2 linked regions of the Homo sapiens genome follow. The protein of the gene in region 2 purifies or fractionates together with the protein of the main gene of each other region. This does not show direct contact. Each region holds a gene or a part of one and is shown on either strand. Other genes may lie near its edges.

What was found. Proteins that work in one complex are often made in the same cells at the same time.
Region 1: the proteins of PSD4 (region 2) and GLB1 purify together in Homo sapiens (affinity purification with mass spectrometry; one large-scale study listed by BioGRID and IntAct). This does not show direct contact.

The regions. Positions count from the first base shown.
Region 1 is NC_000003.12:32,999,647-33,003,146, reverse strand, and holds part of GLB1 (beta-galactosidase isoform a preproprotein), read left to right. Parts: intron 1-3,500.
Region 2 is NC_000002.12:113,172,536-113,176,770, forward strand, and holds the start of PSD4 (PH and SEC7 domain-containing protein 4), read left to right. Parts: upstream 1-1,435; 5' UTR 1,436-1,519; intron 1,520-2,734; exon of another isoform or gene 2,735-3,233; intron 3,234-4,235. UniProt on the Homo sapiens protein: Guanine nucleotide exchange factor for ARF6 and ARL14/ARF7. Through ARL14 activation, controls the movement of MHC class II-containing vesicles along the actin cytoskeleton in dendritic cells. Involved in membrane recycling.

The DNA.
Region 1 (3,500 bases), on a different chromosome or scaffold from region 2:
AAACCATAAAGTTATTTAATTTTATTACTTTAAGACTGAGGAGGAAGCAAAAAAGTGTGATTTGCGTCAGCTGCAGAGCCTTTTGGGGTTCTGAAGGAAGGGGAGAATTAATCTTCTGTGTATTTCATTGAGATCTATTTAACCTCTTATTTCTAAGCAAGCCTTGTAAGAGGCTTTTACCTTTTTTTCTTTTCAATTCTCCTCTTTTTCTTCTCTTTCTCCCAGGTAAGCATCACAGTGATTCATGAGTTCGGTGTGTGAGAGCCTTTAACCTTGGGAACTGGACCTTTGTCTTTCCCATTTTAAGTCCTGCAAGTGTCTAAATGTTTTCTTTCAGAGTGTGACAAAGGCAGCATTCACCCTGAGCTTATTGTTGCTTTTAAAGGAGCTCCCAAAAAATTTTGGAAAATTTTAAACTACAACTTAAAACAGTAGTGAGACCAGGCACAGAGGCTCACACCTGTAATCCCAACATTTTGGGAGGTGAAAGCAGGAGGATCACTTGAGGCCAGGAGTTTGAGACAAGCCTAGGCAACATAGTGAGATTCTATGTCTATTTTTAAAAATAGTTTTTAAGTTAGCTGGCCATGATGGCTAACAACAACACGTGCATACCTCCCCCCGATAGTTTCACACCTATAGTCCCAGCTCCTCAAGAGGCTGACACAGGAGGATCGCTTAAGCCCAAGAATTCGAGGCTGCAATGGACTATGATAGTGCAGCTGCAGTCTAGTCTGAATGACAGCGTGAGACCCTGCCTCATAAGGAAGGAAGGAAGGATGGAAGGAAGGAAGGAAGGGAGGGAGGGAGGGAGGGAGGGAGACTTTTGTTTTAAATTCCATTTATCCAGATAGTTTAAAACAGACAGACAAACACATGTATCTGTCTGATCAACAAAAAAGTAGGTCAGGCATTTCCAGGAACCTCACATTTATGAAACTATTATTATTGCCTTAGTGATTACAGCAAAGGGTGGAGAGTCTGCCAGGGTCAAGCCGTGGTCAGAGAAAGTCACTTTGTCATGGAACTATTTTAACTGAGACTGCCTTAGGAAGCCCCAGAAACCACTGCTTGGTCCCCATGGGGCTGACTTCATTAAGAGTGTATCTACTTTTAGATCATATTCAGCAACACGTGCATACCTCCCCACCAAAAATAATTGCAAAAGCATAACTTTTTAAGAGAAATAAAAATCAATGTATATATTTTTTAAATAGAATTTTTAAAGGTAAATTATATTAAAGTGTTTTTCATTGGTTCTAATCAAGGAGGGAAGGCAAATGTTTTTCTTTTAGTGAACAATATTCTTTAAAACTCTTAAACTGGGAGCAGAGGAACGTGAAGAATTCTTTCAGAAGGGCTTCATGTCACCTCTTCAACGAATCTTTTCTTGGCAGAATTATCAACAAGTAGCAGCAGCCATGAGTGCTACTAAGTGTATATTGAATATCACTCTCCTGCGTGCGGAGAATCTCGCCTCAAACAAAATGGACAAAGACTTTCCCTTCCTAGAGCCTGTGTTATAGCTGGAAATAGCTCATAAACTAGTCATCAAACAAAAGATATGAATTTCAAATCATGATAATAACTAGAAGAAAAAGAAAAAATGAAAGGATAGTGAGTGACTTGGAATGGAAAGCCCAGCATTAAGGAGGAGGGTCGTGGCCCTGCCTGAGTGATGAGAAGGCTTCAGGCTGAGGTGAGTAGTGTTTGCACATGGGGACGAGCTGATGCCCAAGCAAAACTAACTGAAAGTAATTGGGGAGCTGTGTGTGGTGATGCACATCTGAAGATCCAGCTTCTCGGGAAGCTGAGGCAGGAGGATCGCTTGAGGGCAGGAGTTTGAGGCTGTATTGTGCCTGTGAATAGCAACTGGAGTCCAACCTTGGCAATGTAGCAAGATGTAAGAGTGAGAGAGAGAGAGAGAAGAGAGAAGACAGGAAGGAGGAGAAGAGAAGAAGGAGAAGGAGAAGAGGAGAGGAGAAGAGAAGAGAGAAAGGAAGAACAAGAAGGAGAAGAAAGAGAAGGAAAGAACAAGAAGTAGTGGAGAGTGGAGTGAGCAAGGGGGAGTGCGGCAGACACAAGGAGGAAAGGAGGAAGGTATGGGCTGTGGACCACAGGAAGGAGGTTTGAAACAGGAATGTGTGAAAAGAATCCTATTTTCACTTTGGCAGCTATGCAGAGCCTAGATTCTAGAGTTAATAAAGTCAAGAGACTGTGAGGAGGCTGCAGCAGTCTAAGACAACATTGATTTATGACTTGCTCTGGAAGTCAGGCTGTGAGGATAGAGAGAAATGGAAGACTGATGGTCTAATAATGAAGTCACTAGGATCTCACCATACCTTAGCTCTGTAGTCCAGTGCAGTAGCTTCTTGTATAATATTGTTGGGTTTTTTCTGTTTGTTTTGTTGTTGTTTTTTTTAACTGAGTCTTGCTCTATCACCCAGGCTGGAGTGCAGTGGTGCAATCTCAGCTCACTGCAACCTCCACCTTCCAGGTTCAAGCGATTCCCCTGCCTCAGCCTCCTGAGTAGCTGGGATTACAGGCACCCACCACCATGCCTGGCTAATTTTTGTATTTTTAGTAGAGACAGGGTTTCACCATATTGACCAGGCTGGTCTCGAACTCCTGACCCCAAGTGATTTGCCCGCCTTGGCTTCCCAAAGTACTGGGATTGCAGGCATGAGCCACCACACCTGGCCTTGTATAATATTCTTTACAAGAACGTTCATTTTTAACCACATATGGTTAAGTTTAAATTAATTAAATGTGAAAATTCAATTCCTCCTTCACACTTTTTTAAAAAATAGCTACTCTTTATAGTATCACTAAAGTTGGACACATGCATATCCCATGACCCAGCAATTCCATTCCTAGCATTCCCCTCCTGTAAGAAACATGTGCATGGCCAGGCGAGGTGGCTCATGCCTGTAATCCCAGCACTTTTTGGGAGGCTGATGGGGGAGGATCACTTGAGACCAGGAGTTTGAGACCAGCCTGGGCAACATGGCGAAACCTCATCTCTAAAAAAGTACAAAAATTAGCCAGGCATGGTGGGGCATGCCCGTAGTCCCAGCTATGTGGGAGGCTAAGGTGGGAGGTTGACACTACAGTGAGTCGTGATGGTGCCACTGCATTCTAGCCTGGGTGTCTGGAGTGAGATCTTGCCTCAAAAAGGAAAAAAGAAAAAGAAAAAGGCCAGGCATGGTGGCTCACGCCTGTAATCCCAACACTTTGGGAGGCCGAGGTGGGCGGATCTCTTGAGGCCAGGAGTTGGAGACCAGCCTGGGCAACATGGCAAAACCCCATCTCTACCAAAAATACAAAAATGAGCTGGGCATGGTGGTGCACGCCTGTATTCCCAGCTACTCAGAAGGCGGAGGAACAAGAAGCTCTTGAACTTGGGAGGTGGAGGCGGAGGCTGCAGCGAGCCAGGATTGCACCACTGCACGATAACCTCCCCAGAGCAATGGCTGCTGCTTCTCTCCACCCTCCCAATC
Region 2 (4,235 bases):
TAATTCTCCTACCTCCCACTTTCATCATGGCCTGGAGCTCCAGGTTTGAAGGAGGATTCTTAGCCGCCTCTGAATGTTGCTGCCACAGCACAGCCCACCCCAGCCTTTGGCCCACGCCACAGCTCCACCTCCCTTTCTCTTCCCCACCCTGCTCTGTATCACACGTGCATGTGGGTGGGTGACCTGCCCAAAGGTTTGAGCTCTCTCTACCTGCTCCCGTCTCTGCTATCAGGACTCTTGCCAGCGCTTCACCCAGTCTCAGGCTGCATAGGGCAGCGGTGCTGTGTGCCCACATGGGGAGGAGGCCATTTGGGCCCCAGAAGTGGAGAGTCTCGGGATCTGGGGCACGCAGAGTGTGGTGGAGAAGCAGGGTGCACGGGCTCCATGTTGGTATGTTCCTGTGGACTCTGTACCCTGCAGGGAGGGGTGCGGCTGTAGGTGAGCTAGAGCCCGACCCTCTCAACTCTGGGTCAGGGTGGCTGGTCCCCACTGCTGTGTGGACATGCAAGTGAGGGAGTCTCTGGGTCAGCTGGAATCATGAAGACGAGAGTTCAGGGAGGGTGGGAGTGGTGGAGCCTCAGCAGAGAAGTTGACGGTCATTGATGTTGAGGAAGTAGATTGTGTGGAGGGAGGAGAATGGCATGGTGTTTGCGCTCCCCACCAGCCTCACTTACACTTGTGGACACTGCGGCCGGTGTCCTGAGGACGTGTGTTGGGAATTCAGCCACGGGGAATGGAGGTCCCTTGGTTCATATAGTCACAGGCTCTGTATTCTAACCCCAGCTTTGTAATTTTCCAGCTGTGCAACCCTGGGCAGTGGCTTAGCATCTCTGAGCTTGCCTCCAGATCCGGATCTGTATGATGGGGTTATTAATGCTTCATAAAGTAGGTGTGAGGAGGGATTGAGGTACTATTGGGAGAAACTTTGTAACTAAAAGGCAATTGTATCATTTGCATTATTACCAGTGACATGAGACATAGTCACACAAAAATTGAAATGTCATTTGTTTTAAAACCAGAAATTGCCCAACTTAGGGCCCTCCTGTCTCTCACTGGGTGCCCTGCAGGGGACCAAGAGCCAGAGCAAGACTGAGAACCTGGGGCAGAAGCGCAGGGAGGAAGGAGGTGGGGCCTGCTTACCAACCAGGCCTCGGCCCCTTCCCCTTTCAATCCCAGGCCCCTGCATGGCAGGGAGAGGCCAGTTCCACCATGGCAGGTTCTTTCTAGGCTGGTGTGCAGGGTGGGGGCCTCCAAGGAGCAGGGGCATGGGGAAAGGGGCTGCAGGCGCTGGGCCTAGGAAGAGAGGCTCTTATCTTGTGGGCAGGAAGTGTGAGGTGTTGAGCAGCTAGGGAACCCTGGGGAGGCGGCGGGGAGCAGGAGGGGTGTGTGTTGTGGTGAGGAGGAGCGGAAGTCGGAAGCTCCAGCCGTCACAGCCACATTCACTGGGCAAGCCGACTGTGAGCCAGGAAGTGCTCTTGGGGAGCCCAGGCCAAGCCATCCATTCTTGGGTCCTTTGGAGGTGAGCTAAGTGGGTCTGCCTAGGTTGGGGCTGGTGGAACCTGTGGGAGCAGGGAATGTGGAGAGTCACATGTGGGTCCTTGTGGCAGGGGCTGGGGCAGGTGGGCAGGGGAGAGGCGAGGGCTCTGGCAGTGCCGTGTGCACCTGCCATGAGCCTGGGCTAGGCTAGGCCCCTCCTTCCCCCTTCCTGCTCTGTGTCCCGTCCCCCTCCTCCCTCAGCCTACCCCTCCTCATCTGACCCTTCTCTGATTCCCTGCCCTGGCCCCACGGACCTCTGTTGTTTCCCTTCCCTGGCTCCCCGCAGAGCCTCTGGAGGTCTGCAATAGTGAAGGGTGAAGGAAGCTCCTTGCTAATCCTCTTGTGAGTGTCACTGCGTCCCCAGTGACTGCTCTGGCTGAGTACCCAGTGGGGGCTTTTGTGGCCAAAGGTCCCAAGTGATTCTCGACCCTAGACTCTGGAGAGAGGGAGTCTGGAAGGCCTGGGTTTGGGGTGGGGGTGGCTCTGGGTGTGGTTGCTGCAGGAGCTCAGAGTCAACTTGGCCATCAGGGGGCTCCCAGCTTCATCTTGCCTTCCAGGACCATCCTGGAGAAGCTCGAGGAGAGGTAAGGGGACCCTCCTTACTGGTTTAGCTCTGGCTTAGGCCTGTTGTCCTGATGGGCAACAGGAACCACTGAACTCTCAAAGTGTGCCTGTGTAGGAAACTAAGGCCCACTGTAGTCATTATTGTTATAGTGAAGGTAGCTGCATGGAGGGAAAGTCCCCTGACACTGCCATTCCCCCCTTATTCCAGGGCCTAAAATTCCACAGTTGAAGTCACTCCTCTGCTAGAATGCAGGGAAGGGTGGCCTGTCATTAGCTGATGATAAATACTCCTCCGTTCATTGGACCTTGGACCAGCTTTAAAAAGTGGTCCCCAAGCAGGCCTGTCTCCCAGCTGCCTAGGACTCTAGAGCATCCCGTGGCCCCCTCCTCCTACAGACAAGGAACCGCCTAGCATGGGGATCAGAACACAGGCTGCTGAGCTCTTTGTTGGGGAAGGGGGAGAGACCCACAGAAGGGGTGAGGGATGTGGGGTGAGAGGACCCAGGGAGGAGAGGCCCAGCCTGGCCCCAGCCCCCTAGGGGTCTTTGTCCTCCCCAGGCAGCAGCTGTACTGGGTCCCCTTTGTCATTCTGTCCCTACCCCCGTGATCTCTCCCCTGGATACTCTCTGCCTACCTCAGACCGCCATCCTCTGCTCCCTTCCTGAGCCTCTGCTGGCCTCACCACAGGCCTTCAGTAGCACTGTCTTCTCTCTCTCTCTCTCTCTCTGTGTGTGTGTGTGTGCGTGCAAATTTGCATGATGGCTCTTTCTGTGTGGGCAGGATGTGGGGCCTTCTCGAGTCATTTCTCTCACGGTGCTTCAGACCCCAGGTTCAGACAGAGGCCTCTGTCCTGCAGCTCCAGGCCAGGGAGTTCCACTCATGGTTCCTGCCTGCAGCAACATCTGTAATTCGGCAGCTTCTCGGGCTGCAGAGGGACAGGACAGGTCACCTCCTAAGTCCTTGGACCGGCCAGAAGCCTTCATACCTTTTCCATAGGAGGGAAAACATTTCCAGGGTAAAAGGAGGGAGCGTTTGCTTGCTGAGTCTGGAAGCTCAAAAAGGGAAACAGAGACAGGCACCCTCCGGATGAAGGTTCAGGGCTGACTCCTTGAGGAGGCTGAGAGCTGAGCCTGACCAGGAGGGCTATTTGTTTGTTTTTGTTAATTTTGGCTTCTCTAAATGGACAGCAAAACAACAAAATTAAACTGAGCAGGACACGGTATTTCCTGAGCACCCACCAAGGGCCAGGCCCAGCACTCAGACCCATTCCAACTTTACAACAAACCTGTGAAGTATAGCTTTATTGGGTCTTGGTTCCTTATTTTACAGAAAAGGAACCAGGTGGAGTTTTTCACCCAGAGCCACATGGCTTGTCAGCTGTAGAGTTAGGATGGGATTCTGCTCTGCATTCTTCACTATGACCCTGAAGTGGGCAAAGGAGGGTGGTCAGTGCAGGGCACCCAAGGCCATCACCTTCCTACTCAGGGCAGGCTCATACCCCAGCCTCTGTGCCCGGTCTCCCCGTTCTTCAGCCAGGGTACAAGGCTGCAATGCCAGGCTGAGGGTGAAAAACAAACTCACTGTTAGAAAGCACCGTCCGGGTGCCAGGTGTCAGCTGGGTTCCTTCCTGCCCCCTTGGGTCAAAAAGAAATTGCCTTGAAGCCGGGGGTGGGGCAGGTGGGAGGGACTCTGCCTTCTAGTCCCTCAGCCATTGCTTTCTGTGTGTTTCACCTCCCACAAGAGGGACATAAGGCTTAGCCCTTGCAGTATTCTCCATGAGAAACATACACCCCCTCCCCACCGTGGTGAAGATTCTCTGAAATGTAGTCAGCTGTGCTCAAGAAGAGTGGCTGGTTGGCAGCAGAGTGGAGCAGTGCTCTCTCTTCCCCACCTCGGCTCCCTCCCCTCTGAACCCTCCTTAAACTTTCAGAGCCACCTCAGAGCTCAGAAAAACTGAAGGGCCACTTTAATGTAGAGGTAACAGAACTCAACTGATGTGACAGGTGGCGATTCCTTTGCTGCGAATTCCTTTCCTTCTGCTTTCGTTCTGGTTGGGATAACAGACAGGAGATTTCAAGAGAGATTTTGCTAAACACCAGGGGTGGAAAAACACAAGTAAACCAAGAAAATTTTAG